2 separate regions of the Homo sapiens genome follow, and region 2 is linked to region 1. Evidence: fine-mapped expression QTL. A gene starts in region 1. The other region holds a variant in brackets. All regions are shown on one strand. Distances are from middle to middle. Region 1 holds the start of PHACTR1 (phosphatase and actin regulator 1). Region 2 overlaps PHACTR1 (phosphatase and actin regulator 1).

Evidence for each region. PIP is the estimated chance that this variant, and not a neighbour inherited with it, causes the effect.
Region 2: its variant is fine-mapped to the expression of PHACTR1 in whole blood (TOPMed, PIP above 0.99).

The regions. Positions count from the first base shown.
Region 1 is chr6:12,714,205-12,719,584 of GRCh38, reverse strand. It overlaps PHACTR1 (phosphatase and actin regulator 1), which reads right to left and starts at 2,818. Exons shown (of 15, transcript NM_030948.6): 1 at 2,689-2,818; 2 at 1,842-2,076; 3 at 738-886. The coding sequence starts at 840. The region is part of intron 1 of LOC107984015 (a long non-coding RNA gene); the gene reads left to right.
Region 2 is chr6:13,267,518-13,272,897 of GRCh38, reverse strand. It overlaps PHACTR1 (phosphatase and actin regulator 1), which reads right to left. Exons shown (of 15, transcript NM_030948.6): 11 at 1-38. It overlaps TBC1D7-LOC100130357 (TBC1D7-LOC100130357 readthrough), which reads left to right. Exons shown (of 9, transcript NM_001318809.2): 9 at 5,063-5,380. Among named protein-coding and RNA genes, the nearest start is that of TBC1D7, 58 kb to the left of the region's middle. RefSeq lists an enhancer at 319-418. The variant A/G (reference allele first, on the strand shown) is at 2,048.

The DNA of each region.
Region 1 (5,380 bases):
ATGCCCATCATCAGGTTGCTTTGACTGAACACCTTAAACATTTCATGGAAAACAGAAAATATGTGAAAAAAAAAATCTCCTCCTAGTCACGAGATCCCATATAACACTCCAGCTTCTTCTTTAATGTGGTGGAAAAACATTCTAAATACCCCAACAGAAGGGCAAGAAAACTGGAACCTAACTGACCATCTTGAAACATGTAATAAAAACGGACACATCAACCACACTTCCCAAGAGGCTTGCTCCCTGAATGTACACTAGTAATTATCTGAGGCGGTAACTGAATTCAGCTAAAATAGAGAAGGCAGCTATAGAGAAGCTCAGCGCTTCTCTCAAGAGCCCCTAATCCTGCTGGATTCCAGTCCACTGGGTCATGATGCCCTAAGATTTCAAGAGCTGTGGCTGCAAACTGGAAATTCTCCAAGGGGAAGAGCATTCTTGATTCTTTTTGGACATAAGTGTTGGACACAGGTGGTAGGAAATCATTTCTAACATAGCTTTCTGAGGGGCACTTACACCAAAAGTTGGGCATTTTTTTAACCACATCCAAGAAGTGTGGATTTATTTATTCTATTATATACCTGCCTCAATTCCAGCAGCAGTTTGGTAGAGGTTATCAACTTAGAAATACCGGTTATTAAACTTTCAGAGCAAGGCTTTAACAGCTACAGCCTACATGGCTGTTCATATAAAACCGACGTGCAAATAAGAGGAATTTCTTTTTCTTATTTTATTACCTTGAGCTCCTTGACTGTAGAAGAATCTTTGAGCTGACTCAACATCCAAGAGTCTGTGAGCAGACTCTACATCCAGAAAATAATCCATTTTGGGATAATCCATCCTTGATGTTCCAAACACAGAGTTTTGAGAGAAAACACTGGAACACCTATAAAGAGGAAAAAAAAATCCACAATATTTTAGACGTCAAGTATAAAGTGTATATATAGATGTACTTTAAAATGTTTGAATAAGAATATCCCATTATAATATTCTACTACTTGATTGACATTTGCAATTCTAAAGCCACCCCCCAGCATAGCTTTCCTACCGTGTGAGAAAATGCCGCATTTAGCCAACATTCATTAAAAGTAATATATTCTACTCAGGAAAAACAGATGATCTGATCTAAAGAGAGATAACATACCAGCCTTTCCTTGCTTTATATTCTCTGGAACATATACTGTTAAATTCACATGCTATCAGTTTTCAAAAGGTCTATTTGATAAATAGCGTCATTAAGTGTCAGCCGTTGTGAGTGTTGATCCTCAGCTCATCCTGGGACTTTCGGATTCCCCTGGAGCAGGGAAAATTGCCTGGGAATCCGAGCCTCCACTCATAGATGCCGTGCGTTTATGACACACACTGACATATTTGCTGTACAAATGCTTTGAATTCCTTCCTTTCCGGCGATTCCCTTCAGCACATTTTATAAAGTGCTAGAGGATCGTCACCTGCCTGTGCCTGGCAGGGGCTGATTTTTGAGAAACAATTGTGGTTTGTAGAGCAGCAAGAATGATTGCAGCATTACAGTGATCCCTATATTATCATACACTAGCCTGTCACAAAGCTAATATACTTCCCCAGAAAACATTCAGCCTGTTGGGTTCTTTTTTCAAGCCTATGTAGCCTTTCCCTGATACTCACACAAATGAATTATCTCTATTTCTGCAGAATATTTTTTTGGAAAGAATTAACAAGACAAAGTCATTAAAACCAAGCTTGGAAGTCTAATCCAATTGGTTTCTCTTTCTAACAGTATGTATTTTAATTTAAGAAACCAAGTCCGGTAAGACAAAACTTTTAAAAATACCCAAAGGTACCCCAATAGCAAATATACTTACTGCAAAAAATAAAAATCAAAGGCTATCTGTCAGCGGTAAAACAAGAGCCGTTCCAGCCAGAGTGTCTTTGATCTTGCTAAATATTCCCGGTGAAAGTAAACGATTTTGATTGTTTGATTAGAACAGTGATGAATAATGCATACAGTCCACTGGACTTCCTTTATCAGATAAAATGGCCAGAGCACGTTACCTTAGCAACGGAAGGTGACGCCAGCCTCAGCCTCTGCACCCTCCCCTGCGAAGGGAGAAAATTACCAGTTTCCCGTGTAAAACTTTGGCAGAAAATCATCAAATCCACATGCATACATCATGCAGGGCTATTCCCCAGCCCCCTATCTCTTAGGCAGAGAAGTGCCATAGTCATTAAAAAAAAAACAAAACAGATTTATGTCTTCATTGTTTATTTTCATAATCCCAAATCTTAGTTTGATTTGCAGCTACAAAAGAATAGAATATGAAATGATTAAAAATTTAATATATAGAAAAGTTGTCTAGAAATTTTTGTGGGGGCACCAGTTATTACCCTAATGCTGGCCTAAGAGTGGCAGGGAATGGGGGAGTTTAGGGAAAGGCCATTTTAGCTTAACATACGTTAGACATTCCCCTGTTATAATTAATACACAGAACAGCCACCGGCATCTAGGCTGAAAATAACTCTTCCCTTCTGCAAATCAGTCACTGGAAGAAGCTTAAAAAGCTGTCTGAAATTTCCCAGATTCTGAAAGACATATTATAGCATAGATTTTGTGGGAGATCCCCACTCCCCCCACAACCCCCATCCCCGGCAAAGGAAAATTAGCCAAAAAGATATTTGAAAGGAAGAGTCTGGAAGTTAGCGGATACTCACCGGCACTTGTTGACCCCTTTCAACAGGACACGGTAGAGTACAAAACAAAGCAGTGCGACGCTTCTGAGCCCGCAAGCACAAATGAACAGCTTCTAATTTTCCCTTCAATCTCGCTTCAAGAGCACTGAGCAGAGGGAAGTGATGGATTTGCCCATTTATACTGTGATGAAATGCAACCCTTAAGAAGAGATCTGAGTGGAGCTGCTCTTTAGAACACATTAGACTGCTAATTTAAGAAAATTGAAAGGTTTTGTTTTACTGTCTTTTATGTGTTCTTCTCTGCTACCCCCTCAATTTAATTTGCATTTAAAATTATTCTCATGTCTCCTCAGCTCTCCAAGGTGTGGAGTACTTTCTAATCATGAAGGCTGCTCCAGTAGGGTTTGGTGCAACACCACTTTTATGCTGAGCTGCAAAACAAGGCAGGTAGTCATAATTGTGAGCTGTTTTCTGGAGCGAAATACAGAGGGCACGTTTGATGTCACCCCTTCCCTCTTGCCTGGCTTTCTTCCTTTCCTTGCTTCTGATTGCCTGGTCAAATATCCAGCGCAGATCATGCCAGTCTGCCTAAATGCATTTCTCTCTGTCTGAATGTAACAAAATAATACCAACAACAAAAATAAACTTTGGCTAGTATCTCAAGTTATTCTGGTTTAATATTCTTCCTACCAAACCTCAGTAATGACTTTTAGGCACAGTACTTTGAGATCTTCATGCAGGGCATAGTGATAGCCAAATGCAAGCCCTACTGTGGGTTTTCCACAACCTCTTGCACCCTTTGTTGACCAAGCAGAATTGCTCATTAGTATGGTGTGGTGTACAGTGGGTCAGCTTGTTAAGAAAAGAGCATTTACATTTGATAAGCCTCGGAAGGAAGACCATCAACACCACCCCTGTCCCCCCACTCCCTATACACAGCTCGGCTGGCTGCCCTTGAAACAAACCTGAAAATCCTCTGCTGTTTGTTTTGTGGGGTCTCCCTCTCCCACCCGATCAGAACAGATCAGACACCAAGCCGGTGCTGCAGACAGTTAAGCCTCATGAAAAAGGAAGCTGAAACTACCAATCATATGCCCTTGTAGGAAAGTCAACTATGGACTCTGAATTCTGAAAGCTTTGCTCCAACCCAAGGACTGACTTCTTTAAGGTTACTTTTCTATTCAGCACCCACTGGAGACATGCTGAACACTTGACATTTATAAGAGGAGAAAGCTGTCTTCTGGTTCCTTTTACTTACTGTGAGGTGTGGGCGACAGGTTCTGAACTCGTTATTGTAATTCTACTGAAATTGTAATGACTCATAGATGAGAGAAAGAGAGAGAGAGAGAGTATAAGTCTATGCTGCTGACCAAACCTTTAGGTGAGTGCAAATGAATGTGTGATTGAAGAAAGAGATGCTAAACTGGAAATGTGAAAAATAGAGTTGATTCCCAGGGGGTAGGTGGTGGATTTGGAAGTCAGTCATTTCTGGAGAGTTGACCAAGAAAGAGAAATTTAAAATACTTTACAAAGTGAACAAATAATATGAAAGGGTCGTAATTTAAGAAAACTCAGGAGGGAAAATTTCAACTTAAAGAAATGTATTTGGGGCCGGGCACAGAGGCTCATGTCTGTAATCCCAGCACTATGGGAAGTCAAGGTGGGTGGATCACCTGAGGTTAGGAGTTCAAGACCAGCCTGGCCAACATGGTGAAACCCCATCTCTACTAAAAATATAAAAAATTAGCCAGGCATGGTGTTGGGTACCTGTAATTCCAGCTACTTGGGAGGCTGAACAGGAGAATCGCTTGAACCTGGGAGGTGGAGGTTGCAGTGAGCTGAGATCATGCCATTGCACTCCAGCCTGGGTGACAGAGCAAGACTCTATCTCAAAAAAAAAAAAGAAAGAAACAAAGAAAGAAATGTATTTGGGAAGGGGATGATTATTCATTTGCAAACAGGGACTTACTTTTACTAAATAATTATCACTGTGTTCTGTAGCATCATATGACCAACTTCTGTAATAGATTTTCAAAAAATGATCTCACTCTCTGGGGAATATAGCTATAGATTACATATAGGTGTGTGTGTGTGTGTTCAAAAATTATTTTTAAATATGGTAAAGCATAGTAATGTTCAAAAGCCAATGTCAAAATCTGATTAGCTCAATTCTGTTTTGTAACTTTAAACTGCTCCAAAACAACACTTATAATGGTCTATTGTTCTGAGAAATAATCAGAGAGGAAGGCAAGGTTACATCAAGTATTCAAGCTAACACGTATTCGGCACTGAACAATCCAACCCAAAACATTCTCAAGATTTCAGCTCTGCAAAACTTAATTCAGTGTTAAAATATCTCTATGACCTAGAAATAAAATATTATTTTAAAAATTCCAAAATCAAGTCATATGTTTTACATTGATGGCATTAAAATATGAAAGTGTAGAACTGTAAGGTTGAAACAAATAATCTAGAATTATTAAAAATATGTGAGATGGTAGAGAGATACATACTTTTTTGTTTTTAGTTTGGTTGGAAGAGGATACATATGTGAGTATTCTATACACAAGCAGATGTATTCAATTAATTCAAAACAGAGGTATGCTTCATGATGGAATCTAGAGGCAAGTAAAGATATAAGCTTGTATTTATTTTGGGGGTGTGCTTATTTATTGTGTTAGATGGCAAAAGACCCAAACATTCCAGGAGAGAT
Region 2 (5,380 bases), 550 kb before region 1:
GTTCCAGTTCCTCTGCAGTTGGCCTCTGGCTCAGCCGCCTACGGAAAAAATCCAGGAAAAGTTTTTGGACCATATCATAGCCTCCTTGGGTCATTAATTTCCTCGGCCCTTGCAGATACATGAGACAGTCAGTGGCTGGAGTTCTTGTTCCATCCTGTGCTCTGAAAGACTGACTCTCGCCACCACCGCCTCCTCAGTTCCTCAATTTCAAGCCCAGGAGAGGCACGTGCGTCATGTCACAGCCGCTGACCCCCGCCCTCCTCCCTGCAGCGGCCCCTCCCCAGCCCCATCTCCTCCAGTGGCCCCAGGCAAGTGGACTGCAACTCAGACGGGACTCTTTTCTTCACAGAAGTCCTTTTCTTTCCTTGTGGCCTCCTAACTTGGGGACTGTGGCCTCTTGCCTCTCTCTCCCTCCCTTGAGGCTAAAGCCTGTCTCCTGCCTCTTCTGTGCAGACCCAGTTAGAACATAAAGAGGTCTGTGGCCCCGGGGACATGTGAGAGAATGTGTCTGTCTGCAGAGAACAATGGCTGCTCTTCTTCTGGTCCTGCTCCTCTTATTTCGGAGGCTTAGAAGACATGAGTGGCAAAGGCACAGAAATGATACTTCTGTGGCCAGGCGTGAAATTTAGCCACCGTACATGAAACATCATAGCCAGGGCATGAGCCTGCAATGACGCAATGGGTGGAGGCGGGACAGGCAGTGGATGGCACGTAGTGACAGAAGTAGCCAGGGAACGGGCATGGCATCTGAGGGGAGAATGCCTGCATTAGGTCCCAGGAATGACTGACACGGACTCAGGAGCCTGAGCAGGAACAGAGACATCTGTACCTTTGAAGCTTTTGGTAATTATTTAACAACCTGCAATTATCCGGCATTCCACTTCACCCATTGGGATGAGGTGTGTGAGAAACTGAATCATTGTAGAAGAAATTTTAGGCTTCTCAGACTCCTCTATTGGGATCTAAGGGGTAGAAATGATGCTCTCCTAGTTGAGGAAGTTGCAGTCCCTCCTTGGGTATTAGAAACTGGTGTCTATAGTCGGCAAGATGTTCACATCTTGAAATCTAAAGAGAGATCCTAGAGTGAAAATATCAAGTCAATGAAGTCTCCAAACCTAACTACAGTTGGTCCTCTGTGTCCATGAGTTCCACATTCTTCGGTTCTACCAACTGCTGACGGAAAATATTAAAAAAAAAAACAAACAAAAAACAATAGTCTAAAATTATTGATATAGCATTTATCTTGTATTAGATATAAGTAATTTAGAGATGATTTAAAGGATATGGGAGGATACACATAGTTTTTTGCAAATACTACGCCATTTTATACAAGGGACTTGAGCTTCCTTGGATTTTGGTATCCAAGGGAGTCCTGGAATCAATCTCCCAGAAAGGACTATATTTTTAATTCAAAGCTTGTTGTCATTTGTGTTTTTGTTTATTGTGCTGGGCCAGAATCAATTGCTTCTGTGACATTCCCGTGTCACCACCACACATCCTATATAGGGAATGGGCTTCAATGTCTCATATAGTTTGGATATTTGTCGCTGCCCAAATCTCATGTTGAATGGTAATCCCCATTGCTCGGGGGGAGGCCTGGTGCAAGGTGCTTGGATGGGGAGCCCTCATGGCTTGGTCCTAGCTTCTTGACAGTGAGTTCTTGCAAGATCTGGTCATTTAAAACTTTGTGGCGAAACCCCGTCTCTATTAAAAATACAAAAATTAGCCGGGCATGGTGGCACATGCCTGTAATCCTAGCTACTTGGGAGGCTGAGGCAGGAGAATCGCTTGAACCTGGGAGGTGGAGGTTGCAGTGAGCCGACATTGCGCCACTGCACTCCAGCCTGGGTGACAAAGTGAGACTGTCTCAAAAAAAAAAAAAGAAAAAAAAAAAGCATGTGGCAACTCCCTGCTCACTCTCTCTCTCTCTCTTGCTCCTGCTTTTGCCATGTGATGTGCCTTCTTCTCCTTCACCTTCCTCCATGATTGGAAGTTTCCTGAGGCCTCCCTAGAAGTCAAGCAAATGCCAGGGCCATGCTGCCTGTAT[A/G]GCCTGCAGAACCATGAGCCAATTAAACCTCTTTTATTTATAAATTACACAGTCTCAGGTATTCCTTTATAGTAATGCAAGAATGGCCTAATACAATGTCAGAGAAAGGATTTTTGGTCATATACCTGCTTATAAAGCCTATAGCACCCTGAAACTGTTGGAAATTGCATTCCAAAGTGTTTTTAAGAGTATAAGAACATTTTCATATTTATTATTCCTTTTCAAAATATCCCTGTGGTATAATATAAAACATATTTATCTTTGACCCAGTTCCTATCACAGAGCACCTAAAACCCCTGGAATTTCTGGGGTGTCAGGAGTGTATTTTGTTACTTGGAATGAGTCCCTTTGGATTACACCAGAGTTTGTGCTAATTAGGTGACTTAGGATGGGGCTGGCCACCAGAAAGAACACATAGTTAGAGGCCTGGAGCTTTCAGCTGGGAAGCAGGAGGGTGGGGGGCTGGAGGTGAAGTTCTATGGAAACTCTTAAACCACAAGATTAGATGAGCTTCCAGGTTGCTGACCATGGGGCTGGGGGGCACTGTTGGGAGGGTGGCACCCAGAGAGTGCACAGAAGCTCTGCCTCTCTCCCCCAATACCTTGCCCTGTCCATCTCTTCATCTGGCTGTTCATCTGTAACCTCTGTAAGAAACTGGTAAAGTAAGTGTTTCCCTGAGTTCTGTGAGCTGTCTTAGCAAATTATTTGAACACAAAGAGGGAGTTGTGAGAACCCCAGTTTACAGCTAGTGGGTCATAATATAGGTGACAACCTATGACTTGGTATTGGCATCTGAAGTGGGGGCAGTTCTGTGGGACTGAGTCCTTAACCTGTGTGATCTGACACTGTCCCAGTAGAAAGGGTCAGAATCAAATTGAATTACAGGATGTCCAGTTCATGTCTGCTGGAGAATTGCTTGGTGTGTGGGGAGCTGCCTCACACAGAAATGTGTGGGGTCACAGAAGTGTGTTAAGTGTGAGAGTAGAGTGAAAAAAAGTTTGTTTTTTTCTTTTTTTGAGACAGAGTTTAGCTTTTTTTGCCCAGGCTGGAGTGCAGTGGTGCGATCTCAGCTCACTGCAACCTCTGCCTCTCGGGTTCAAGCGATTCTCCTGCCTCAGCCTCCTGAGTAGCTGGGATTACAGGTGCGTGCCACCATGCCCCGTGCTAGTTTTTTGTATTTTCAGTAGAGACAGGGTTTCACCATGTTGGCCAGGCTGGTCTTGAACTCCTGACCTTAGGTGATCCACCTGCTTCAGCCTCCCAAAGTGCTGGGATTACAGGCATGAGCCACTGCTCCCAGTCAAAGTTTGTTTTTTCTCTTTGCAATCCCATTAAGACATTTTTCATCCCCATTGACAAGGGCCAGCTGTGTATTTGGAAATTCACAATATTAGGGGGTCTAAATTTGGATGCAGTAGTCTTTGAATTCTTTCTAAAATAGCATTCTCACGCTGCAGGAGGAAAGCGATGATTATGCAACTGAGTGAGCCGGTGTCAGAGGTCTGGAATGCAGCTTACCAACTCCACGTTGAAAGATCTTAACAGCTCTTTCTCACCTGCCAGTTTATTTTCCCTAAAAATACTTGCTGCTTTTATAAGAGATGCGCAGCCACTTTTATGGAATGGTTTGGTAATACCCAGGCTTTAAGTCAAGCTAAGTTTTGGGGGCAGAATGTTTTGAGAAAGCCTTGTAAATGTGGGTGGCGCCTACATTTGGAGATCAGGCCAGTGTTTTGGAGTCTTATGCGAAGTGTCTGCAGACTACATTGTTCCCTCATCAGCTTTGACGGTGCCATCCCATTGATCTCATTAGTGAACATGACAACTGGCTCTGTGGTGGCCTCCCCTTTTTTTTATGGGTGGTCATATTTGGAGGGGGCAAAACTGAGTGACTAGACTCTGATCAGAGAAAATTCTGTTATTAACTAGGCTGCTTTATAGTCAAACACTCATAATTTCAAATGAGTTCCTCTGTTTGTGTTTCATTTCTCTGGAAAGCGACTGAGAACATCAAGACTAATCATAGCTATAACATGCAGCTGAGCCCGCCAGAAGGGCCTGTGCTATAGTTAGTTGTTTTGACCTTGAAAATGAGATTTGGGAGGAAAATGATATGGTGGCATTGTAAGGACAAAGCACTAAGTAGCTCAGGAGCTAGGAGGTTTGGGTTCTAGTCCAGGCTCTGCTCTGAACCTATTTACCTCAGACAAGGTATCAGATCCTGCTAGGCCTATGCTCTTTTCTCTGCAAATCATAAATACTAGTTTAATAAGCTAAGGCTGATTTAATGCCTATAATGTAAGGGTATGGTTCCAAGCACTGTACATATGTTAGTTCATTTAATCTTTATCTTAAGATTTTTAACTGAATTCCAGTTGCAAAGTCTCCTTTGCCCTGGGACGTTACATATTCATAGATCTGGGGATGAGGATGTGGACATCTTGTGGAAGGGTGGCCAATATTTTGTCTGCCATAACTATGATACTTTACTAGTCAGAGGTTGCAAACTGATGCCTGGTGCACTGGATTTGACTCTATCAGTTCTCTTTGGCATGCTCAGAGGTTACACTTTTTTCTCTTTTTTGAGACAGAGTCTTGCCCTGTCACCCACGCTGGAGTGCAGTGGCACAATCTCAGCTCACTGCAACCTCCACCTCCCAGGTTCAAGCGATTCTCCTGCCTCAGCTTCCCGAGTAGCTGGGATTACAGGTGTGTGCCACCACGCCCAGCTAATTTTTGTATTTTTAGTAGACATGCGGTTTCACCACGTTGGCCAGGCTAGTCTCAAACTCCTGACCTCAGGTGATCCACCCACCTCGGCCTCCCAGAGTGCTGAGATTACAGGTGTGAGCCACTGAGCCCAGCTGGTTATACTTTTTTTGAGCCTGAATGCCTTTAGACAGAGTGTGTGATCAAATTAGCCCTCTCCCCAGGCCTCACTTATGTAATACAGGTGAGCACGCTCACATCTGTCCTGCTTTTTTTTTTTTTTTTTTTTTTTTTTTTTTTTTTCAGATCATTCCTGGACCCCCGAGGGCCTCTGAGTTTGAGACGCTGGCTGAGATCAAATGATAAGAATTCCAATTTTTGTTTTCCTAAGTCTTTCATCTGCTAATCTACCCAACATGAACCACGGGCCACATGAAGGGCCAGACACATTCTTAAGCGGCTCACAGCCTAGAGGTGCACATCTGTGATTACAATGTGCAAGGTAAAACTGGATCAACAGTTTCCAAGGACTGGCATGTAATAAAATATCCTCAAAACAACAAGCAAGTTGGGCGTGACTTAGACTTTCACTGCCCATGTAGAAGGCACTGTACATTCTTGCAG